Linked DNA regions of Homo sapiens: all the other regions are linked to region 2. The links come from fine-mapping of genetic effects on gene expression. A gene starts in region 2. Each other region holds a variant in brackets. All regions are shown on one strand. Distances are from middle to middle. Region 1 overlaps FMNL2 (formin like 2). Region 2 holds the start of FMNL2 (formin like 2). Region 3 overlaps FMNL2 (formin like 2). Region 4 overlaps FMNL2 (formin like 2). Region 5 overlaps FMNL2 (formin like 2).

The links. PIP is the estimated chance that this variant, and not a neighbour inherited with it, causes the effect.
Region 1: its variant is fine-mapped to the expression of FMNL2 in minor salivary gland (GTEx, PIP 0.91).
Region 3: its variant is fine-mapped to the expression of FMNL2 in fibroblasts (GTEx, PIP above 0.99).
Region 4: its variant is fine-mapped to the expression of FMNL2 in whole blood (TOPMed, PIP 0.99).
Region 5: its variant is fine-mapped to the expression of FMNL2 in whole blood (TOPMed, PIP 0.91).

The regions. Positions count from the first base shown.
Region 1 is chr2:152,416,559-152,421,665 of GRCh38, reverse strand. The region is part of intron 1 of FMNL2 (formin like 2); the gene reads right to left. Among named protein-coding and RNA genes, the nearest start is that of FMNL2, 84 kb to the right of the region's middle. The variant C/T (reference allele first, on the strand shown) is at 2,330.
Region 2 is chr2:152,331,983-152,337,089 of GRCh38, reverse strand. It overlaps FMNL2 (formin like 2), which reads right to left and starts at 1,916. Exons shown (of 26, transcript NM_052905.4): 1 at 1,370-1,916. The coding sequence starts at 1,486. RefSeq lists silencers at 857-956, 1,467-2,116.
Region 3 is chr2:152,430,101-152,435,207 of GRCh38, reverse strand. All of the region lies in intron 1 of FMNL2 (formin like 2), which reads right to left. Among named protein-coding and RNA genes, the nearest start is that of FMNL2, 97 kb to the right of the region's middle. The variant A/G (reference allele first, on the strand shown) is at 2,750.
Region 4 is chr2:152,610,617-152,615,723 of GRCh38, reverse strand. FMNL2 (formin like 2) reads right to left here. Exons shown (of 26, transcript NM_052905.4): 11 at 4,119-4,229; 12 at 724-873. Among named protein-coding and RNA genes, the nearest start is that of PRPF40A, 100 kb to the left of the region's middle. RefSeq lists an enhancer at 3,343-3,422. The variant G/A (reference allele first, on the strand shown) is at 3,006.
Region 5 is chr2:152,620,266-152,625,353 of GRCh38, reverse strand. All of the region lies in intron 15 of FMNL2 (formin like 2), which reads right to left. Among named protein-coding and RNA genes, the nearest start is that of PRPF40A, 95 kb to the left of the region's middle. The variant G/A (reference allele first, on the strand shown) is at 1,969.

The sequences.
Region 1 (5,107 bases), 85 kb before region 2:
TGAATCATCTCACATTTCTCGAAGTTCCTAGGTGAATTCAGTGTCCTCTGAGAAGGCTTTGGAGAAAGCCACATGAGGAGGATTTTGGGAGGCAGAATATACAACTCTCTACTCTTAGTCATGTCTGTGCATTTCACATAGTAAGTAGCCACTCCTATATTTCCCCCTTTGCAGAGCCTGTGGATGGAGATTTACATCTCACAATTGCACTTGAGTTTCCCCAGAGAGGTTAGCACTGATTTGTTGTCCCAACACGGTTGCATGTTATTAATTGTCCAGAAACAGAATGATATGGCAATGGTGCTTAGGTTGTACCTGTAACCCTAACACTGCTGCAAATATAGTAGGATAATTAATTTGTGGTTGGTTCAAATACCTCACATTACCGGCTTTGGGATAAAACAAATTACTGCCCACAGTAAGCCATGAATTTATTTTTCAAAGACTTGAAGTCATTCATTCCACTGACTTCCTCAGAGCCAAAGATACTGACAGAAGTGTTGTACCCACTGACAAGAAAATGCCTAAAGGGGAAATGAGTTGTTAGGGTGGCGGGGCTGGGCAGGGCGTTGTTTCATTTCAGTTTTACCATTTTACCTACTAATAACAATGCTTACACAGTATTATGTGTTTCCAAAATGTCCCCACATACAAGATGCGTTGGACGGTACCCTACAATCCTTGCAGAAAGGCAAGCAACCAACGCCAGACATCTCAGGCGAATAACAGGCAAATCTGAGTCCGAAACCCAGTTCTTCCTACTCCTAGTCTTTCCTGTGCTCAATTTCATGATGCTTCTACAACTGGGATTCAGAGTGGAACTCAGTCAAGGTTTTTCCACCAGTAGGTTTGTAATAACTTACAAAGGTACCGTCACAGAAGGCACCCCCTGCAACCTCATAGTGGAGGATAAAGTCCCTCAGGTCCATTCAAATCACTTTTCTCTTTGCTTTAGTCTGCAGATCTCCACATTAATCAGTTGGGATGACCTGGGAGGCAGCTCAGTGCTGCATCTATCTGGCAATTTTTGGAATGAGATGTCGCTGGTCAGCTCCTTCCTGAAACAGAGATGAGCTCACCATTGATACCCAATGCCCCAGTGCTGAGTACCATCCTTGTCACTTCTGCCTTGTAAGATAAGCAACAATTCTCGGAGAAAGACCTTATTAAAGCCAGTACTTTCAGATCATACTCAGAAACCGATGCTTCTTTCCAAAAACTTCAGGTTCAAAAAGCAGTTACTAGGAAAGGGGTGTGACTTTTTTTCCTACTGGCATTTTAAGTAATATTCAGCTTGTACTCTTAAAAATCACGTTTACAAATGAAACTCTACAGAAAACACTTTTTAACTCAGTTCTACCAACAGTTCCATTTGGCTTACAGGCATTCTCTGTATATTCTGAAAGTTTCTATAATTTGTGGTGACCAAATTCGTCTTTTCACAAGGCATTCATTTCTGTGTCACTACTCTCTTTTAAATACTCTGGTGTTTACTAACCATACCCTGTAATCTCTGTTAATGGGGTAGTTCAAGATTCCTTTTCAAAGGCTTTTTGCTTTAATTACTGCTTTAGCCTTTTGGTAAAACTCGGCTTTTAGCAAACTGGCCTGCAGGGGACAAGTTTTTAAATTATTCTCAAGCTTTCCCTATCCCTTTCCAAGTTTTTCCAAACTACTTAAAAACCTCTCAGCCTTGAGGGAAGGATGATAAATTGGATGATTTTGCTGTCTCTGATGCCTGGCATTAGTCTTGGTTTAATCCATTTTTGTCTCACCAGAAACTTGCCTGTTACAATCGGAGTCTCTCCCATATTCTGCAGCTTCCAGCAAGTGTATTCCCTGATAAAGCTCCCCCAGAGTTCCAAAACAGGTCACAGGGAGCCCAACAGTCCTCCTGGGGTGGTCTCAGGGGCGCCTAGACACAGTTTTGCCCTGTGTTTCTCCTTTCTGTAGTGAAGCCCACATTTGGATTCTTGGTTCAAATGCTTTTCTTCAGAAAACTGGTAACTTCAGGATGGATCCCAGAAAAAAGCTATTAAAATTAGTCATTTTAGATCTCAAAAATAAATTAATTTACTCCTCCTGAGGCTTGGTACCCTTTGACCATCACGTTACCATTTCCCCCAGCCCCTGGTAACCACTCATCTACTTTCTGCCTCTATGAATTCGATTGTTTTGATCCCACATATGTAAGAACATGTGGTGTCTTTCTGTGTTTCGCTTACTTCACTTAGCATGTTTTCTAATTCCACTCATGTTGTCGCAAATGACAGAATTTCTTCCTTTTTTGAGGGCTATTCCACAGCATGGTAAATACAATAATAGCATA[C/T]TGTACATTTCGATATCACTAGGAGAAAATCTCAAATGTTATAAAAAAGTTAAATATTTGAGGTGAATAGGTTAGGTAGCTTGATTTAATCATTCCACATTGAGTTCAAACATCATTACATCACTTTGTACCCCCTTAAGTATTTGCAACTATAATTTGTCCATATATAATAAAAAACAAAAAAAGTCCTTTGAAAGGCAAAAAGAGAACATGACAAAATATTAACTGATCAAGGATGAAAAATAAGTACACTCTGTTTAAACATAGTTTTAAAAAACCTATGCATAAGTACAAATCAAAACCACAATGAGATGCTGTTTCATACCCATCAGAATGACTATTATTAAAAAAAAAAAAAAAGGAAAAGACACATATCCTTTGCAAGCATATAAGGATATGGAGGGCTCGGAACCCTCGTGCATTGCTAGGGTGCAGCAGACACCGTGGAAACAGTATGATGCTTCCTCACAAAGCTAAACATAGAATTACCATATGATTCAGCAACTCCACTTCCAGTTACATACTCAAAAGTACTGAAAGCAGAAACTTAAACAGATACTTGTAACCAATGTTCATAGTAGCATTATGTAGAATAACCTAAAGGTAGAAACAACTCATATGTCCATCAATAGATGCATAGATAAACAAAATGAGGTTTCTATCCATGCAATGGAGTATTACTGTTCAGCCTTAAAAAAGAATGAAATTCTGACAAATGCTACAACAAGAATGAACCTTACCAACATTATACTAAGTGAAATCAACCAGACACAAAAGGACACAACTTCCCTGATTCCACTTATGAGTTACATTGAATAGGCATATTCATGGGGACTGAGAAGGAGAACAGTGGTTACCAGGGGAAGGGGTGGGGGGAATGAAGAGTTACTGTTTAATGGGTAGAGAGTTTCAGTTTGGGAACATGAAAAGTTCTGGACACAGACGGTGAAGATCATTGCACCACCAACAATACAAATGTACTTAATGCCACTGAACCGTATGCTTAAAAATGGCAAGGATGGTAAATTTTATCTTAACGTTTTACCACAGCAAAAAATAAAAATTAAAAACGTGGCCAAAAAATGAAATGAAAAAGAAAATCACCATGTAAATGCAATGGACTAAGGGGTAATTTTTCTATGTTTCAATTCTTCCAAAAGAGCTGCTATAATTTTTAAAAATTAATGCATTTGCTGGGTGCAGTGGCTTATGCCTGTAATCCTAGCAGTTTGGGAGTCTAAGGCAGGCAGATTATCTGAGCTCAGGAGTTCGAGACCACCCTGGGCAACATGGTGAAACCCCATCTCTACTAAAATACAAAAAATTAGCCAGGCATGGTGGCAAGCACCTGTAGTCCCACCTACTCGGGAGGCTGAGGCATGAGAATTGCTTAAACCCAGAAGGCAGAGGTTCAATCAGCGAGATCAGTGAGCCGAGATCATGACACTGCACTCCAGCCTGGGCAAACAGAGCAAGACTCTGTCTCAAAAGAAAAAATAATAATAATAAAAATAATGCATTTACTCACACACTCACTGGTGCACAAATAAATAGGCAGGGCAGGTCAAAAATAACAGTCTGGGTTCAGTGGGAAATTTAGCTCTAACAATATGAGGCACAGAGGAGGTGAGTTACATGTCAGAGGAGCAGGCAGCAACCGTAGATGGAAGCAGAGCAAAAGGGGATATACATCAGGTGCCAGCATGTTTTCTTCCTTCTGATCTTTTGCCTCGAAAGCCAGCCTTTCAGCCTAAGCCTCAAGGCCCTGATCACCTTGGGTGATGTGCACAGATCACAGGAACACCTCAATGTAAGCAAATCCAACCTTGCAATGCCCTAGACTATTTCCTGATCCCCGCTTGGTCCCACTGTCAGCACAGCACAACAACCAACAAGGCTGTTAACCTGCCCCAAGAGTCTTACAAATCAGCAGATTCAGCTGACAGAAAGCCAAGGAATTTTCTCTCCACATCGATGTCATTCAATGAAGACTTCTGCTTAAACCAGAACCGTGAAGTTTTGTATCCGGAGACTTCAAGCACAAGTTCAACACCAACCTCCAACAGACACCTCTCAATCACTGGCCCTAAAGGAGCAGAAGGGCATCCATTCACAGATCAATGTGTGTATTTTCTAATTAGCTTAAGGAACTTTGCACATGTCAGATTTGAACGTCTATGCTACCTTATGGTTTGTTCAGGTAATTTCGTGTTCCCTAATGAGACTAGGATAAGTAATCGTGTAGAAGTTAATACAGAATTGTAATTCACTACAGATACCCACAGAGGACAACCTATGCCTGTATTGTTAAGGTTTGACTATCCAGATCTACAAATTCAAGTTGAAACTTATTTCAGCCCTCCTTGGAACAGTCCACTAATCTAGAAAACACTGGGACTATTCTTCCCGAGCAGTGAAACATCCACACAGGTTAGTAACTACAGGCTGCTCTAATTAATTACCTGAGACACAATTGGTGGATGTTAGAGTTTGTTATGTTGTTGTATTTTTAATTCCATTTGCCTACTTGATCCACATTTTCATGCCTTGGCTGTGACACTTTAGAAATTAAAACATCCCAATAGTGTATAATTAAAAGTTAAATATAGCAGCTACAATCTAATTTCATTGAAAGTCTCCTCCAAATCACAGAAGTGCCACTGGCCTGGCCTGGCTAGAAGTCAGCATGGACAACTCTAGATTCAGGCACTTTCAACTGTGATGCATTTGTAAAAGCTGCAGCTGGGCAATGGAAAGAAGTAACATATTTGATTCTAG
Region 2 (5,107 bases):
AGAGAGAGCTCAGTTCTCCCAAAGAGCACACAGCTAACCTGCCATCCAGAACATCACTTCCCATACCAAACCATTCCTTTTTCAAGGCCTGAAGGCAGGCAATTTGAACGTCCTGTAGCTGAGCACACCTCAGAAAACCGATTTTTGATCTAGAACTCGAGTCCTCTGCCAAAGTTCTAAGTTTTCATGAAAACAAAAGAAGAAAAGAAAACCCGCAGGCAGGCACAATCGTTGGCTGCCCGGATCACGAGTTTCCCTTGCTGCCTAGTCTTGTGGAGTTTAGAGGTAACCAACTAGGAAAAGAGAAGTGTCCAAGTGTCAGGAGTAGGAATGAGCCCAATCTCGCCTGTGTGTGTCCCTCCCAACATCCCTTAGAAGAGGCTGGGACACTAAAACTGGTAGTCTGGGGGACCAACAGCAGTCCAGATCCTGGCTGGGGCAAGCCGCCACACCCTCTGCAGCTCACAGCACAAGCCTCGGCTGGGAGGGGCCCAGACACTGTCCCAGCAGGAAAGGGAGAAAGAGGGGAGTTTTCAGAGTCCTGGATTTGAGGAGCTGGAAAGCTGGGAGAAGCGGAATGCAGGAGGGAGCGGGGGACCTGGCTGGGCGTGCAAGAGGAGGGGAGGGGTCGCCCGTGCAGTCAGGACAGCTCGCAACACGTCCCCGCAAAACTCCACATTTTTGTGGTTTAAGATTTAAGTCTAGAGGGAACGCGCTGAGGTTCTCCCCGGCCTGGGTTTCAGATGCCCCTGCTCCTCGCCAAGGGCCGGGGCGCCGCACTGCTGTGGGTCTCCGCTTTCCCTTTCGGGGAAGCTCCCCTTGGCCAAGCCGCGACGTGAGCCCTCCAAGTTCGCCTCCGCTCACCGCCCGGCGCGGCGCCCGCGGCCGGCCACATGCGCCCCATCTGCCGGGGACTTCGCAGGTCCCGGGCTGGCCGCCCGAGGGATGGTCCGCAGGGGCTCAGGGTGTTTTGTTTTGTTTTGTTTTGTTTTGTTTTTTTTAAAAAAAAAGCCTAAGCGGCTCGCCACCTCCTCCTCCCAGCCCGCGCCACCTTCTCTTCACGCCCACGCCGCACCTCCCGGGCACACGCGCCGTGAGGTGCCTCTCCAGCCAGACAATGGGTTCGAGGCTGGTTGGGCAGCCGGCCCTGAGCCCCCATCCCCATCCCGGGACCCCGAGAGACTGAGCGCGGGGGACTGCCAGGGGGGTGAAGAGGAGTGCTGGGGGGCCACAAAGGGGAAAGCGGGAGCCTCCCCCTCGGGAATGGAGGCTCGCTCCCGGCACGGGGTGAAGGGGAGGGGCGGGGGTCAGCTGCGCCGCCCGGCCCGGGGCCCCGGGTCCCCGCGCCCGACCGCCGCCGCGCACTTACCAGCACGATGGCAAATCGCTCCTCCAGTTCACCTGGCTCTGGCATCGGCAGCTTCAAAGGCACGTTGTGCGCCCTGAAATCGGTCTGCTGCGAATCCATGCTCCCTGCGTTGCCCATGTCGGCGGCGCGCCGGGGCCGGGGGCTGCTCCGGGCCCCTAGCGTGCGCGTCGGAAATCAGAACAGCTCCCGGCGGTCGGCTGCCGCCCGCAGGCGCGACCTGCCCGGCTCCCCGCCCTCCGCCGCGCCCAGGCGGGTGTGCGGCGCGCACCGCTCCCTAGCAGCGCTCCAAGCCGAGCCGCCCCCCGGCCTCCCTCATGCTCTCCGCCGCCCCAGCGCGGCCCCGGCCTCTTTTCCTCGGGAGGGGTAGTTGGGGCGCTGGGCGCCTATGTGCATGGTGCTCCGCTGGCACACCGCCCCCTGCCAGAGATCGCGGCCCCCGGCGCGTGGTCCCTCCTACTCGGCCTTCTGCCGGGCCCGCGGCCGCCGCTGACACTTCCAGCCCTAGCCGGCCACGGCTGCGCCTGCCTGGCTAGCACCTGGAGCAGACAAATGCAGCTCCGCGCTCCCCTACACAATGCCACCTCTCGCCCGGCGCCCGGCCCCCGCCCCCGGCCCGGCTCCGCCCACTCGCCCCGCGGACTGCCGGGACGCGTAGTTTCTCTCCAAAGTGTCCGCGCGCAGAAACCACGCCTGCTCTAGAGCGCCAGGCCGGGTTGGGACCATTTGCAGCAAAGGCGATCCGTAGTCTCTGGAGATAGCATATTGTCACTTTTGACCCTCCTCACCCCAACAGTGGAATACTTACATCGTGTATATCATGTTGACACTTGGTAGGCGGGTCTGACCATGACGGAATCGAATCAATGAATGAAGGAATGCATGCCTTCTGATTAAAATTCAGAAAATCGTTGCTGTTTTTAAAAGATCTAGTTCAGTAAGGAACTTCGAAAGCACTGGCAAAGTTCTGTTTCATAAACGGGGGGGTGGGTCCATGGGTGCTTGTTTATCGTTCTTTCTTCCATATATATGTTCTTTGGTGTGATTGAAATGTTTTATAAACAGATGTATAATTTATGGGTATATATAGTCAGACCCTAGGAGCTAGGTAAGGATTCAATTCAATTTAAAAAAAAAACCTGTCAAACACCTATTATGTATGGGATATTGTGTTCCTTGGTGGGAGAAAAAAGAGATTTGCCCTGCGCTGGAATACTTGCCAATCTAGTGAAGGAAAAAATGTACACACCCATATTTCATGTGAGATGGATATAATGATAGAGTGTTCTGGGAGACTTTGGGATGATCTTTGGCTGCAGCTCTCTTATTCCTTCACAGCAGTCTTGAGCAAGGTGTCTTACAGAAAAGATTGGACCTGACTCTGTCCTCTGGGGTGTATTTCAGACTATAACTACCCGTTCTGAAACCTCGGAAATAGAAATAGCCTTATAAGAGACTTTAGCCAACTGCTCATGTGAATGTTAAGGGCATACATCTGGTTGACTTGTGGCTGAACTTCTGCAGTTAGTCCTTTCTTAGTTTAAAGCAGTGTTTCTTAATCCTAGATGTGTATCAGATTCGCTTGGGAAGCTTTTTGTTAAAACTACACACACCTTGGGCTCTGCGTATTATCAGAATCTCCCTAAGCTGAGAGCCGAAGCCTGGGCCGGTGTATTTTCAACAAGCTCCCCAGGTGATTTTGATATGCAGGTAAGGTTGTTATCCTTTTAGTAAATAGCAAGTGTTTCTGGACAAGGTAGTACACCAAGATTCAATCAAGGACATTTCATTCATCTTTATAAACTTCAAGATACTTTAAACATAGTAGACGCCCAAGAACTATTTGTGGAATTGACAAGTGACTTTTTCCAAAAGCATATGACACAAATACACACAAATACATCATGTATGTTCTATTAAACCACTTCTAGTCTTTAAAGAATGGAGACAGTATAAATAAATTCAACTTAAAATTCTGAATAACTGTAACCTGTATTTCTAAAGCAGTGTTGTATCAAAGTTAATAGCAAATGTGTTACTGATCTGAGAGAAAAGCAGGGCGGTTTAGATACACACACACTCCAAACTAATGAAAATGAGAGAGAAAGAAAGCAGTTCGGACCAGGTGAAACATTTCTGACCCACAAATGTATTTATTTCCTTGTAATCTCTAGACATATACTTTGGATCTGATTGACTCACAAAATCAGCCCACCCAGAGGGTTGCCCATCTGGATAAAAAAGGCTGGAATTCTTTTCTGCAGTTGAGAAAGCCTTTTTGATTACATTTATGTCTCCCTGCGGCTATATTTCTGCCAGTAACCAAGACCTTTTTCTCCCCTTACGTCTTATCACATCTAGTCTCTCTCATAAGCTCACACTTCGAGGGAAGCCAAGGAAAAAGTGTGCAAATCTATGAACCAAAAGAACTTTCCTGCCATTTCAATGTTTGGAATCTCTAATATTTGGTTGTTATTTGTGATTATTAAGAGGAGAAATAAACACTCCATAGGCTTGTACAATTTCTATAAGAATCCATCAAAATCTTAGGAAATTCTTTGCGGGGAGACGGCATGGAGGGAAAGGAAAGAAAAGACATTTCTATTACCTTAATTGTAGCACTCTTCCTCCCCACAGAATTAAAATCAAGCAATCATTTAAAAATGTATATTCCATTTATTATTATTATTATATATGATTTGTTACAGCTCATGTGCAAAATATTGGCAAAAAAGAAAATGTCTGGGCCGGGCATAGTGGCTCACACCTGTAAGCCCAGCAGTTTGGGAGGCCAAGGCAGGAGTATTGCTTGAGCCCAGGAGTTTAAGACCAGCCTGGCAACATGGAGAAACTCCATCTCTAAGAAAAATGCAAAATTATTAAGAGACAAAAATGGCGAAGTATGATCTTCCAGGTACACTCCACTGGAAAAAAAAAGAAAAGAAAAAGAAAGCCAGTTGTATGGGCATGCATACAACTTCCTAAACACACTGTGTGTGCTCAATTCCCCAGGGTAAGAAGAGCACCATGCATGCAGAACGCCTACCCTAAGGGAAGAATCATGGGAAAGAGAGATGGGATCTCACTGTTGCCCAGGCTGGTCTCAAATTCCTGGCTGCCAGCTATCCTCCTGCCTTGGCCTCCCAAAGTGTTGGGTTTACAGGTGTGAGCCACTGTGCCAGTTTGATATTCTTTATAACAAAGCCTGCAAGATTTCTTCCCATACAGAATTTTCTGAAGACAACAAAGAAGCTAATTATTAATAATTGGATGCATACTATGAGATGAGAATTATATACCTTCTTCTAGACTGTCAACTTAGAACAGAATTCAGAAAACTATGCCTGTAAACCAAATCCATTCATCTGCCTACTCTTATAAATAGTTTTATCGGAACACAGTAAAACCATTTATTTACCTACTATCTATAGCTGCTTTTGCACTGCAAGGATGGAGTTGAGTTGATATGACATAGACCATATGGCCCTCAAAGCCTGAAGTTTTTACTATCAGGCCCTTTACAGAAAATGTTTGCTGATCCCTGACTCAGAAGATACTATATTTTGCAAATCGTAAGTACTATAAAGTGATATTTTTACCTATTATCTATGTGATGTAACAAAACTACCTTTAAAACCTAATGGCTTAAAATGTTTAAAAATATGCAAAAATTTTTTTAAATTTTTGGTGTGTGACATCCACCTGTCTTCCTAGCTGCTGCTAGGGAGGCTGAGGTGGAAG
Region 3 (5,107 bases), 98 kb before region 2:
GCCTGGCCTCATTTTCCCTTAAACAAGTGTGTGAAGAGAGCAAGGTGAGGGGTGTACATGTATGTACAGGTATCTGAGTCAAAAAATTTAGGCCATATGAGTCCAATGCCTCCAGAGAGAGATTAAATATAAGAATACCTTCTAGACTGTATCTCTGATCTCTCTGCTTGAGACTTTGACCAATGCTCCAAAGCTCCTTGGCCATAAACCATGCCATCTAGATGTTGAGTGCTAGAGCCTGCTGGACATTACTGAGCACATGTTTGTGGACTCTAGATGTGAAAAACAAACATTTGGGTACACTGCTCTGAGGGGCCATCCCAGGGATTAGTATCACATTAATGCTAATTCTGCAGCTGGCCCTGCCAAAGAATTCCCACCCAAGTCCTGGCCCTGGAACTCTGAATAAGTAGCTTAAGCTTCCGCAAAGTAGCATGAATAATTAAAGGAGCTAAGCCTACCTGCCTAATTAGAGCCAATAACAAACAAATCAGCTATCTAAAAACCAATTCTCAGCCCTCTGGGGCAAGCAGGAGTAGGCCAGTTAAAAAACTTACTGCTGTGTTCTGCAGGGGCCCTTCTGCATGGGGGGAAGACCCTGCCACCACAGCACCCTGCCTTACCATGGTGCCACCTAATCACTAATCACTTCACAGAAACTAAAATCAGGGGCCAGCTGGGATCCAGCTTATGTCCAAGCCAAGGAAGCACTCAAGTTTTTGTGTGCTGGATAAGATGCATGAGATCAAATGTCTAATTCTTAGACCTAGCTTGGTTCAAAAGGATTAAAACCTCAAATTCAGATTTAGCTGCAACTAGAAACATAAACCCCAAACACAGTTTTCAAAGGGCCACCAGGTCATATGCAATGCTAATGCCTTTATTCCTCCATACCCCCTGCCATTTGTAAATTTTACATGGGCCTGACCTAACGTGGAAATTCACCGTGCATACTTTCCTGCTGTAGCTGACAGTCTGCACAAAACTTGTCTCTCTGACTCCCTTCCCTGTTGCTCTAGGTCAGAGTGTATTTTGTAAATGGTTACTATGCTAATTACTAAGCAACTTTCAATAATTTGAAGAGTCCTTCTAAAAAAATTCAATGGAATAATTACAGTTAAATTTTCTACTACTCAGTTTTGCCCTACCCAGCCAACTTTCCCCTCATAAATGTCCTTCTGTTTCTACTCAAAATGGGCTTTCTCCTTGCATGACATTAATAGTACCAGTTTCCTCTATCACGTTAATAATAATTCGTTGTTTGGCCTTGCATTTGAGATTTTCAAAGCTACAGGAAAACAGGGCAGGACAAAGATTTTCTCCAGACTACATCAGACTGATTTTCCCCCACTGCTGTCTGCAGAGCCTTTTCTTTAGAAGGTTGGGGCCAATTATGGGGGAAGAACTAGAAGAAATCAGTAATAAGAAGAAAAGGAAATGTTGGCCTGCTTTATCCCTCAGCCTCTGATCACAGCTCATATTAGTAAATAGTCACAGCCAACCTAAGGTGGTGACAAGTTTTCCCCAAGGACCTCCAGGCCATTATTCTCACCCCATTTACTTTGTCCAGCTGTTCCTCTGTCATCTCTCACCCAAGCACTGTGTCCAGGGGCATGCAACTTTACATTCAGACCAACCCTGATGTCCACGGTAGACTACATTAAGAGTTGACTCACTAGGCAACAGAAAAGACTTCCCATTCTCAAGCTCACCCAGAGTCCAGTGGTGGGAAGAGAAGAGAAGTTGGGTTGATTTTCTATCCTCCAGAATAATGCCAACTTCCTTTGTCCACTTTTAAGTCTTCTGCTCTACAAACACATGGTAACCTAGATGACTTCTCCCCTAAAATGAGCTGCCACAAACAAGAGCACATCATTTCTGTAAGACAACCTACACTCTTGCATACTGTTATTTTGCAATAGTTGAAACGCAGTGAATTGTAAGTGCTAATAAAATTATTCTCATATTCTTTTTCTGATCCTCTGCTTGATGGCACACAGCAATTTCCCTTTCCTTCATTAGTTAGTTCCAGGGCCTCCTGTCCTTGAATAAAGATTTAAGAATGTGCTCTTGTGATATAAAATTAAGTGGCCTACCATTTATTCAGCGCCTATTAGGTCCTGGATCAGTTCTGGGAAATGACAGATAGATAAATACCTCCTCATTTAATGCTAACAGCTCCATGAGGTAAGCGCTGCTAGTATAGAGCAGAGGCAGAACTCAAGCCCGGGTCTGCCTGACTCCAAAGTCCATGTCAATGCCTGCCATGCAACCTGAAAACTTCTTTTGAAGCCAGCTCTCAGGAAATGAATCCTGGAGCTTCTCCTGTATTATCCTACGCTGCAAAGCCAGCTCTCAGGAGATGGATCCTGGAGCTTCTCCTGTATTATCCTACACTGCAGGACTATCAGGGAGTACCTCCAATGTTGTCTTACTCATCTTTAAAATTTGTTAGAGTCCCAAGAAAGGCTACAGTTTAATTAACGGCCCCCTATGCCAATTCAACCTCAGAAGGAACATCCAAAGACTTGAGTTTATTTATAACAACTGACAGAAGGTCTACTTGCAATGGCAGGGAAGTCTATCCTCAGAATAAATTTGCCTTTCTCCAGGCTAAAGGTCACACAAGGTACAAATTTAGAGCTTTGGACGGCCATCTGCTGATGCATCTGGAAACAAAGGGAGGAGACAGGAAAGGAACGGGAGGCAGCCAAATCCCCTCAGATGTCTCACTAGGGTGTGTGTGTGC[A/G]TGCATGTGTGTTTCCTGGTGCATCTTTAGAACAATACTGTAAATTAGGATGGGTGTATCAGACCTTAAGAAAACTGGCATGATTCTTTCACAATGCTTCCGCTCTGCTTTGAATTATTGCAAAATCAGAGAATGATTGAATCATGATGTCAAGCTTTCACATGCTCAATCCACACAGGCAATGCCAGAATGGGAGCAAAGTGGAAATGAAGACAGAATCATCTGAGACTGTTAAAAAAAAAAAGAAATGCAACCAACCACCAGTCCCCTATTTATGAGGAGAAAACACATATTCAGCCTGTGGGCCCATTTTTCTTTTACATAGATATTAGCCAAATACTGAAAACAATCACATAAACCACATTTCATAAAATTGTATGTGTATATACACATACACACAGATAACAGAGAGAGGAATAAAATATTTTCTCAAAAATCTTCAGAATCCTTCTCAAGATTTAAATTTTCAAATCTTTTTTTTTTTTTTTTTTTTAAAGATAGGGTTTCACTCTGTTGCCCAGACCAGGAGTGCAGTGGTGTGATCACAGCTCACTGCAGCCTTGACCTCTCTGGCTCAAGCAATTGTCCCAGCTCAGCCTCCCAAGAAGCTGGGACTACACGCATGTGCCACCATGTCTGTCTATTTTTTATTTTTTGTAGAGATGAGGTCTCCCTATGTTGCCCGGGCTGGTCTCCAACTCCTGGACTCAAGCAATCTTCCTGCCTCAGCCTCCCAAAGTGCTGGGATTACAGGCATGAGCCTCACACTGGGCTCAGATTTCATCTTTAAAACAGACACGCGGCACATTAATTTCTTCTATTTGGTCAAGGTACTCCAAGTTTTATGTAACAACACAAATTAGGGCACTTTAACATAAAAATGATATATTTGATGTTTTAGTGACTGCAATACAAAATCACAATGGTTTCAAAAACATGTTGCTATTTTTTCAGCAGCTAGAATGAAATGTGTTTCATCTCATAATGTGATCCATAAAGAAGTTAATCTTTTTCCATTTGCTGAAAAGCTGAGCCTTTTGGATTAACCATGTACATGCAACCAGTTGGTAAACAAAACACATTTTAAACTTTTGGTTACTAAGACATTGATAAATAATCCCAGATTAACTCAATTTCTCTGAAGTCTAATTTTCAAAGTTTTCACACCATTATCATAATTGAGCCTTATAATAAGCCTATGAGGGTAGGGATTATTTTCTCCATTTTTGGAGGAAGCAACAGAGAATTAATATTCAAGGAAGATGATTTAAAGCAGTGTTTCCTAAAGATAGTCTCTTTTTTCCTTTGTGTGAGAAAGAAAGTAACAATTGGCCTTAAAAAGAACCATTATTCTCAAGATCCCTGCAGAAAACAGCGAACAAAAAGTCAGCTGAGCATTTGGCCCCAAAAGTCATTCTGCCCCTTGTAAAGCAAAACACAATCATTCAAAACAGATGCAAGGCAATCTTGGAATTACATTTTTTAATGGTCCACTTTTAAACATCAATCAGCAAAAATAAAAAGGGGGGAGGGGAGGGCATAATTCCAGAATTTGCTGAAATAAACATATATATATATATATTTTCGAGACCAAGTCTCACTCTGTCACCCAGGCTGGAGTGCAGTGGCATGATCTTGGCTCACTGCAACCTCCACCTCCCGAGTTCAAGCAATTCTCGTGCCTCAGCCTCCCCAGTATCTGGGACTACAGGCACGTGCCACCATGCCCCGCTAATTTTTTGTATTTCAGTAGAGACGAGGTTTCACCATGTTGCCCAGAGTGGTCTCGAACTCCTGAGCTCAGGCAATCCGCCCACCTCGGCCTCCCAAAATGCTAGGATTACAGGCGTGAGCCACCGTGCATGGCCTGAAATAAATCTTTAATCAACCTTTAAAGAAAGAGATGAATGGAAGTGAAAGTAGGTATATAAACATTAACTTGCATTACAATGTTCACGTCTTCAACGTACCCCATAGGCCTGGGCTCTAAGGCATGCAGAAGGCCATTAGAAAATGATATTTCACTCATCTCCAATTAAATGAGTTAACACACCTTCAGCACAATGTTCATTTTGCCTATAACAGAACATTAATAAAGAGAAGAGAAAAGGTGAGTGTGCACACAAGGGCACGTTGGCAACCCACTGCTGTCTGTCAAGGAAGAGACAAAGGATAGCCTGGTCGCAAGTTCTAAAATGGACTAACGTGAGAACTCATTTCCAAAACTCAAGCACAGTACAGTCTCTTGACTTCCACATAGAAAATGAAAACCACTTTATTTTGCAAGTGAAGGGATAATTAGTCATAATTTGATAAAACCAGTATTATAAAAATTTCAATATAACCAACTGCTCAAAG
Region 4 (5,107 bases), 280 kb before region 2:
AATGCTTGGGTTTTTGAGAAGCACCATTTTTCTGTTAATTCTTTTACTACTGAAATATGTGGTTAATGAATGAACAAATAATCTCTAAAGGCCCTTAGAGTCATATTCAAATCAGTCTATGGCAAGAAAAATCCCTCAAAGAAAAATGAGACCCTGTCCTGTGATAGAGCTGACAACGATACTGAGGACATTCTTCAAAGAACAGGATATATGAGAAAGCACACCGATGTCCTTGAAAATGCCTATTGTTGAAATGACTCTATTAAGAATTTGAGTACCGTAAGACAGGAATGTTCAGACATGCATCACAGAGACACCAGCTAATCCTGTCCATGGGTTTGTGTGGACATAGTTGATAAGAAGATACCTCTTCGCCTCAGGCCAAATTCTCATATTTAATTTCCCTCTAATCATTTACGTAATGCCAATCATCAAACACCCCCACTCTGCTTGAGCCTGTAAGCAAGACTGCCAGGAAATGCACCTCAGCAGAAACTGAGCAGGTAAGTGAGCTAAAGCAAAGCAACAGATTCTATTTCATTTTACATAACACATCTGCTTTTTGGAAAAAACACAGAACAGCTTCTGATAGCTCTCTCTTGCAGGGTATGGCCTATTCCTATACTCCAAATCCTTAAATTTACCACCATAAAAGCTGACATTAATTCTGCTTTGCAACCAGCTGAAATGTAAGCAATTTTTCCTTTTCTGAGATATAGTTACATGAGAAATGTTTTCTTCCAGTTCTTCCACCCTCTCCAAGGCAGCATTCTTAGTTTCAGCATCTTCCAGTAGAGCTCCTACATCAAAAACATTGTCCAGGTAAGCCTGGATCTGGACTTGAAGCTTGTCACTCTCAGTGTGTTTCAGCTTCTAAAAACCAGAATAGGAGAGAACGTGGTGTTAGCTCATCTATGGAAATAGAACATCATTTCCTAAGAGTCTGTCTTTTTTGTTTTTTGTTTTGTTTTGTTTTGTTTTGAGATGGAGTTTCACTCTGTCACCCAGGCTGGAGTGGAATGGTATGATTTCAGCTCACTGCAACCTTCACCTCCTGGGTTCAAGCGATTCTCGTGTCTCAGCCTCCCAAGTAGCTGGGATTACAGGCACGCGCCACCACACCCAGCTAATTTTTGTATTTTTAGTAGAGACGGGGTTTCACCCTGTTGGCCAGGATGGTCTCGATCTCCTGACCTCGTGATCCACCCGGCTCAGCCTCCCAAAGTGCTGGGATTACAGGCGTGAGCCACCACACCCAGCCAGTCTATGTGTTTTCTTTTCGACAAATAGTCCAGCCCTTTCCAAGAGAGCTTAACATGTCATCTTCCTTAAGAGAATTATGGAGTGACTGCCTAAGCAGTATCATCAGATGACTTTCGGGTGAATACGCTCTCCCAAATGCACACACATTTTCCCCCAAATCCTTACTGCCCCATGTAGTTATATTCCTATGTAAAACATTTTGATATACATGAAATTGGGACAACAGAAAAATTAAAAGCAGCTTTAACAGGTTATAGTCATGGCCACATAAAACCTGAGGGGTATCTGTGTAGTGGAAAAGACTGGAGTGTTTGGTATCTTACCTGGTTAGTTACAGTGGTTCCAGTAGGGGAAGAAGGTTAGGCGAGAGGTGGGGCAGACACTGACAGAGTTTATACTTAGCCTTGGGGATTATTTTAGCACAAATTGCTAGAGCCCAACCTCCACACATCCCTCCCTAAGTCAGTATACAGCATGAACAGCTCAGGGCTCCCCAAGGCAGATCAGAAAGCTTTCCCCAATTCACTGCCTCCCAAACTAGGCATCCTGCAGGGACTCAGCTAGCTCTGGAAATTAGAGGTCAAATAAATCAGTGAATCTTCCCTACAAGTAACATAAGTCATGACTTTCCCTGGGGAACAGATGAGTGATTAGAATAATACCTGGTGCATGGATGATGCCAATCAACATTTATTGAACAAATCAATGGCTACTTACAAGGCTGGGTTTTTGTAAACTAGTGAAGCATTTATATAGCATACATTTACATTACTCTTCTAACCACCTCTATTAGGTTCCAGAGTCAACACATGATGAAGTTAAAGAAATACAGAGTTTTGACAAAAAATCTTACATTTTTAAGAGAAATTCCACTCTACATAAATTTTCAGAAAAATGGATTTTCCCCTAGGTTTAATCTGGAATTCTACAATACAGCTTATTCTGAAGAGAGAGTGTTCTGTTTTCATTTATGAGTCACAAGTGAGAATGGCTTCTAAATAAGGGCAAAGGCTAGAACAAAAGGAGAAGCAGCTTAATGGGATTTTTCATGAGATTCACAATGAATAACAGGTGTTCAGTGATAAGTGGGTACCTGCCGTTATATTCTACAGCATAAACAAGCTCTGCTCAGACACCACAAAACCAAACCCAAAACACCGCTAGGAATTTATACATCCAATTTTTGTTCAAATACTGATACTTTTAGAGCATAGGAGAAAAAGGGATAGACAAACCTTGATCTCAAAGTAAGAAAGAGTCTTTCTGTACAATATTCTGCCAGTGATATAAATGAGCCTTTAAATAAAAAGGAAAGCAATTCAAACAACATTTTAATGGAAATCTATTACGCCTCTCCCTGAGTAGTCTTTAGACAACAGTAGGCCCATCTATTCAAGGGCAGCCCAGCCAGTCTAGGAAGCAAGGCCTTCAGGTTGAGAGTAACCACCTCTGTGATTCCGTCTCCTAATAAACTGAGGGTACAGTCTGTGCAATCCCTTGGGTTTATCTCTAACAAAGATGGGCAACTGAATTCCTGAGATGCCCAAAGGAAGTACTTCTATATTCTTCACAGCTGGAAACAGGCTTGAAATTCAGGTCACCGGCTGGGTGCATTACTTGAGGCAGGAGTATGAGACTAGCCTAGCCAACATGGTGAAACCCAGTCTCTACTAAAAATACAAAAATTAGCCAGGCATAGTGCCTGTAATCCCAGCTATTCAGGAGGCTGAGGCATGAGAATC[G/A]CTTGAACCCAGGAAGCAGAGGTTGCAGTGAGCCAAGATTGCACCACTGCACTCCAGCCTGGTTGACAAAGTGAAACCCTGTCTCAAAAAAAAGGAAGGAAATTGAGGTCAACAATTCTTGCTCTATCACTAGACCATTCCTATACAAAAGGGAAAACAAAACTGCCTGGATCCTCAGGTCCACTTCTTTTCCGTTTTAGACACAGGGTCTCGCTCTGCCACCCAAGCTGGAGTGCAGTGGTGCAATCACAGCTTGTTGCAGCCTAGAAATCCTGGACTCCAATGATCCCCCCACTTCAGCTTCCCAAGCAGCTGGGGCCACGGGCACATACCACCACACCTGGCTAATTTTTTGGTGTTTTGTATAGATGGGGTCTCACTATGTTGCCTAGCCTGGTCTTGAACTCCTAGGCTCAAGTGATCCTCCACCTCAGCCTCCCAAAGTGCTGGAATTACAGGTGTGAGCCATCAGCCTTTTCAAGACCATTTCTGATTTTCACAAGTTTCTGTTTCTTAACTGAAGAACTTCAGGGAACTGGCTAAACTCTTCTGCAAGGGAGTGAGAAAAAGGGAAACTTTAAACCTCCTTCTCCTAAGAACTAAAAGTGGAACTTCTAAAGCCACAAACACTTGAAGCAGAATTTAGCAGCTTCAGGAGGAAGTCTCTGGTGTCCATTTCCTCATTATTTTTTTTTTATGCTCTAAGCACTGACTCATCACTCTACAGTCTTGGCTTGACTTTCTCTGCCCAGATGGGGTCCCCGGAGTAACCAAGAACACAAATTGCCCAATAGCCCAGATGAAGGATGCAATGAGACTTGACCCAGATGAAGCTCAAAAGGAGAGGAAAGCTGCAGCAAGGCTGCAAGAGGTTATCTGACTCCCGTACTAAAAGGCTGCTAGCAGAAGATGACCTGAGATCCCAGGAGCCCTGCAAGAATCCAGCATCTCTGGCAGAGTACATCACTCAGCTCAGTTCCCTTTAACTAGCACTACAGTAGTTGACTGCATAGAGCTTTAGGCATTCTTTAGCTGCTATGGAAGCGTACCTTTGAGGGCAGGCAATAATAAGTCAATTCTTATATTGGAGCCAAAGGTCACAGCTATACTCACGTCCAAGTATTCGTCCAGGCCTAATTTGGTAAATTCATACTGCAGGTGAACTCTGAAATTCATATCTTCTACTGAATGGACTACAATATTAATAAACTGCATAGAAGCCACCTGAAATGAAATTGTCAAGGGGTTAGATGGGCTCCAAACTTTTTTCTCAGTTTAACTGCAGACATGTGCTTTCAATTTCATAAAAAAGGCTCACTTACCGATTTCCTTTTCCTTCATTTCATTGGTTCTTTAAAAATATATATATGGTTTTTTTTGGAAATGGAGTCTTGCTCTGTCGCCCAGACTGGAGTGCAGTGGCATGATCTCGGCTCACTGCAACCTCCGCCTCCTGGGTTCAGGCGATTCTCCTGCCTCGGCCTCCCGAGTAGCTGGGATTACAGGCAGGTGCCACCACGCCCAGCTAATTTTTGTATTTTTAGTAGAGATGGGGTTTCACCATGCTGGCCAGGCTGGTCTCAAACACCTGACCTCGTGATCCGCCGGCCTGGGCCTCCCAAAGTGCTGGGATTACAGGCATGACCCACTGCGCCCGGCCTCTTTAAAAATATTTTATACTTATTTTTAAATTCAAAAGTCACAGAGGTACCACAATAAGACACCACTTCGCACCCACTCAGATGGCTATAATAAAAAAGAAATACAGTAACAAAAGTTGGGAAGGATATGGAGAAATTAAAACCCTCATCCATTGCTGGTGGTAATGTAAAAAAGGGTGGCCACTTTAAAAAGTGTGACTTTTACTCAAAATGATAAACACAGCATTATCATATGACCCAGCGATTCCGCTTCTAGATATACAGTTAAGAGAAATGAAAATATACGTCCACATAAAAATCTTTACACAGATGTTCAGAGTAACATCATTAATAACAACCAAAAAGTAGAAAGAAGCCAATGTCCATTAATCGATAAACAAAATGTGGTATATCCAAACAATGGAATATTATGAAACCATAAAAACCAATAAATTACCAACA
Region 5 (5,088 bases), 290 kb before region 2:
GACACTTTGACACTGGAGGAAGGTTGGCAAGAGGCGCGCAAGTAGGTTTTTAAAGCTGGAAAACAACACACATGGCCTTGGCCAGAGCCATTTGAGGTCATCATTTGGTTGACTAACACATCATTGTATTAAAAGACGTCTTAAGGGCCAAGGGTTGATTTTTTTTTTTCTTTTAACTCAGGCAACTAATTTGCTGCATTACAGTTACAATATTAGGACAATGGTTGGGACAAATAAAAAGTGTTGGAGAGCAAAGATTATTACTCATGTTACTAGATAGCAGAGAGGGCAAAAACTTGCCATATTTGGACATCCTAAATTCTTGGTTGCAGACCACATGTTTACAAACAAACCTTAGAAGATGATCAGGGACTGCAGACAGTGGCTGACTAGACTACCAGAAGTACAACGTCATGAAGGCTGACTTCCTGTGGGTGATTCCGATAATGAAGATATATTGGCTGCTGGGTTATTTCAAGCAGACTAAGGGATATGAATGGCCTAAATGAGAAAATAGGTTTTGAGGTCTTGCTCTGTCACCCGGGCTGCAGTGCAGTGCCGCAATCATGGCTCGCTGCAGCCTTGACCTCCCAGGCTCGGGCAATCCTCCCACCTCAGCCTCCAAGTAGCTGGAACCACAGCTGTGTGCCACCATGCCTGGCTAATTTTTATATTTATTGTAGAGACAGAGTTTCACATGTTGCCCAGGCTGGTCTCAAACTCCTGAACTCAAGCGAGCTTCCCCACTCGGCCTCCCAGAGTGCTGGGATTACAGGCGTGAGCCATCTTGCCCAGCCTAAGAAAATGTTTAAGACAACAGAGTGAAAAAAGGGGTACATACAGACCAAGACTCTGTCTTAAAAATAAATAAATAAAAGGGGCGGGGGGGAAGGAAAAGAAATTGCTGGGCGTGGTGGCTCAAAGTCCTAGCACTTTGGGAGGCCAAGGCAGGTGGATCACCTGAGGTCAGAAGTTCAAGACCAGCCTGGCCAACATGGTGAAACCCTGTCTCTACTAAAAATACACAAATTAGCCAGTTGTGGTGGTGTGCACCTATAATCCTAGCTACTCGGAAGGCTGAGGCAGGAGAATCGCTTGAACCCGGGAGGCAGAGGTTGCAGTGCACCGAGATCACGCCATAGCACTCTAGCCTGGGTAACAAGAGCGAAACTCCATCTCAAAAAAGAGGAAGGAAGGGAGGAAGGGAGGAAACTCCTCTTTTTTGAGATGGGAAGGAAGGGAAGGGAAGGGAGGGGAGGGGAGGCGAAGGGAATTGAGTGGAGGGGAGGGGAGGGGAGGGGAGGGGAGGGAAGGGAAGGAATTGTATGGATTCTCAGACTCAGAAATAGCCACAGTCCCTTGCCCTTCATTTTGAAAAGCAAGTTCTTCCCAGGAGTCAGCTGTGTTTGACTAGGAGGTATCTACACACTCATTAAAAATACTGAAAACCTCTTAATAGAGAGAATGGGATGTATCTTTAAGGGACTATGGGGAGTGCCAACTCCTCTCACTGTGCGGGAATATGCCAAAAAAGGTAATCCATTTAAAATTATATTTATCTATTATATATCATAAAGAAGTCTTCCCAAACCATTTAGCCATACACATTCAGCTTCGTCAGTCTGTTCTGGGTAGCCTACCACACTACTTGGGAGCTTCACTATTTGTCATTATTAGCAAGACAGGGAGGAGAACTTCAGCGCTTCAGTGCAGAACAAAATAAAAGCAACACACGACTAAGCTTGTAGCTGGCTGCCTGCCTGCCTGCCTCAGTTGGCGTTAACTGAGACAGACAGTGCCTCTCATTCCTCCAGAGTTACAAAGGCCATTTAAACAGCAGGAATGTCATCTGATAAATCCACACAAAAGCATGCAGAAAAACAGACACAGCTTTAGCCAAACCAGGCCTCTCCACCACCAAACATGACACCTTTGTCCCCACTACGCCACAGTGTCAGATTCCTCACC[G/A]TACAGCATTTTGTCTACGCTACCCAGGAAAACAGATGTTCTCGATGGGACAAAGGAACAGACTTTCCTCTAGCACTTGCCCTAGCATTGCCTCTGGCACTTCGGCAATGTTAGGGATCTGGGGAGCAGCAGAAGGGCCGCAGAGGAGTCTTTTCATAACCTGAGGTGACAGGTTGGTGCCAATGGCGTCCTACCTTCCTCCCACAGACATGGTAGGCTCATGACGCTCGCTAGAAGTTTGCCATTTGCAACCACCCTTCTAACTATTTAGCAAGGTCAGGAATAAGCCTGAGATCAGAACACAGGCAAGAAAGTTCTCCTCCTTGGAAAGGTTTTCCTGGCTTTAACCAGGGTGGGAGTGGGAAGAGGAGGAAAGCACATAGGTGACCACTGGACACACTGTGTCCCCATGGCTCGGGCTAAAGGCGGGTGAGTGCTCCCTGGAGTGGGCCAGAGACCAGCATGAGGGAGGGAATGGAAAAGGGGCACCTGGCACCTTTTTTTTGTTCTTAGAGTTGAAGTCTCAGATACAAATATAAAAATTAAAAGAAGAAGAAGAAAAAAAAAAAAAAACCTTTTCTCAGAGGAAATGGAAGAGGGCATATGAATCCAGGATGTCTGCTTCAAGGACAATAGTCTCTTATGTAGGTTCAACTAGAATGTGTGGGCAAACCTGGAATCATCATCAGCCACCACCAAGACTTCCCGCAGACACAAAGTCAAAATGCAATGGATCAAAGCAAAATGGAGTGGAAAGATGTCAAGGCACAGTGTGACCAACAGAAACACATGGCAAATACTCAACACACTCAGTGAGGAGCAACCTACAGAAAAGCTTGATTGGCCCATCTTTTGTGGAAGCAGAAAGAACAGAGAAAATACAAAAAAAATTAGATATGGTTAGAGTCAAGTGGCTCAGCAGTTCACGCACTCAGCATAGAATTTCATGCTTCTTGGACACATTTCACAAGGCGGCACAGAGCCAAAAATTCATTTCCATTCAGGCCTGCCTCCAAGACTCAACTATTTCATTTTTAAAATTATCCTTTTTAGAAGAGGGAAGAAAAAAATTATTTCATCGTAGTGGTACCAAACAGCAATACTGAACTGTGCTAGGCATTCCATAGGATAGGAATAATTTTTACATGAAAAACAATCAACCAAAGTCCAAATTCGCATTGTGAGGATCCGAGCACATCCTCCCAGACAGACGGCAAAGGTTCCACCTGCTCAGCAGCCTGTCTCAGGTGACCTACCGGGGGAAAGGGAGCCAGGTTGTTCTATCACAGACTTGAGAGGAAGGAAGCCTTCTTCTTCAAATGCATATTTCACACTACTACTATTTTCTCTATAAAATACAAAGAAAACTCTCAACTAGATAAACTATGGGGCTCTCCTCTTGGTCTTCTGTCTTGGTCTCCAAGAACACACCTGCCCATTGAAGAGATAAGACCCTCGTGTTGCCTGTGGGTCCAGAGGCCAAGTGATGTCATAGGTTTCTGACTTCCCAGGAGGCTTCAGAATATTAGCTCAGCTCTGTCTCTTCATTCTACTGGGCATCCTGATTCTGTCTGGCCTCTTGGTTCCAGAGTGAGAGAGAGAGTTACTCAACACACTAGCAAAACATCTCACCAAATGGGCTTCAATCACTAAGAATTAACAGTCTAAATAAGGATGAATAATAAAGAAAGATTAAAGGCCTTGGAGAAATTGCCTGATCTCGAGCTATCAAAGACTCACAAGGATCTTATAATGCTTCCAAGACATCCCTCACAATCATTTAGTGGACACTTATGGAAATAAAGAGTTCCTGTATTCCCACCTACAGTCCTCTAAATTGCATGAGCCACAACAGGGACCACTTCCAAGTATAGCAAACCCTAAAAGCAGTTGGTTATCAGCCAAGCACAGAGCTCTACACCTTAAAATATTGAGGCAATTGACAGAGCCAACACATTTTTAAAATCAAGTAGTGGGAAGAACCCAAGCAAAACAATTAATAAATAGATCAATCACACAGGACATGGCCCCTTGGAAGGAAGCTCTAGACACATCTCAGCCTCTGGGCTCTCACTCGGCTAAGGCGGTTCTGAGGTCTATGTTAGTGCTCAGGTGCGTGGAAGTGGGTGCTAAATCACACATCAGCGTTTGTCAGAGACAAAGGAAGCAGCCCCAAATGAGATACCACAGCAGACACATCTCACAGCAAGTGCGCCTTGGGGGCTACCAAGAGTGCCTAATCAGGGTGGCCAGGTGCACGGGACGATAATGGGTTTCCACACCCAGTTACTGACAACAGCCTGGTGATGGAACACATTCCCGGGGCTTGATATGAGGTTTCTTGTTTGTCTGTTTATATTCCATAGTCCATCAGTTCCACGATGACTCTGCTCCAACTTTTCTCCTTCAGAAGTAATAAAAGTTCTAGAAGAAAGTGGTAGACGGGGAAGATCTTGAAGGGTAGAAATAAGTCACCGATTTACTGTGGACCTTACTGTGAACTGGAATCTTGTTTCCCTGACAGTTTTATATAGAAGTCGGGGTGGAAGTAAAACCATGGATTTGATGTGGAGTGAATTTATTCTAGGTGACTCTGGGGCATCCAAAAGGGCTCCAGTCATTGGGATGAATGAGCCCCAGTGACCGGCTGGCAGAGCTGCAGATGGGATCCTGGAAGGGATGGAGATTGGGAAATCTTTACAGCTAAGACTGGCTTTTAGACTTTGGGCAAAAGGCTCTGAGAACTATCACAGCCTTGGAAATGGAGGCTATTAGAGTGGTAGTTCTTTATTGTAAATAAGAGACCTCATGAACAGGCTGAAGTAAATGAGGAGGCAGAATTACCCCACGTCACAGGGATGGCAAAGCTTAGAGCAATTCCAGATGCCAGGGAAACACTTCAGGACTGAGAAAACGGCTCGTAGCGTCATCTTTGTTTCCGTGAGTCAAAACAAAGAGCTTAGATTTCAAGGCATTAGAGTGACTCTTCCTCCTGCTCTAACCCCTACCTCCCATTTTATTTCTGGTGAGGTGAGGATGCTGTTTTCTATCTTCTGGTTGGCAAGAGGACATGAATTATTTGGCAGCATTTTAAGGCATGATAATACGGCTGTTGGCAGC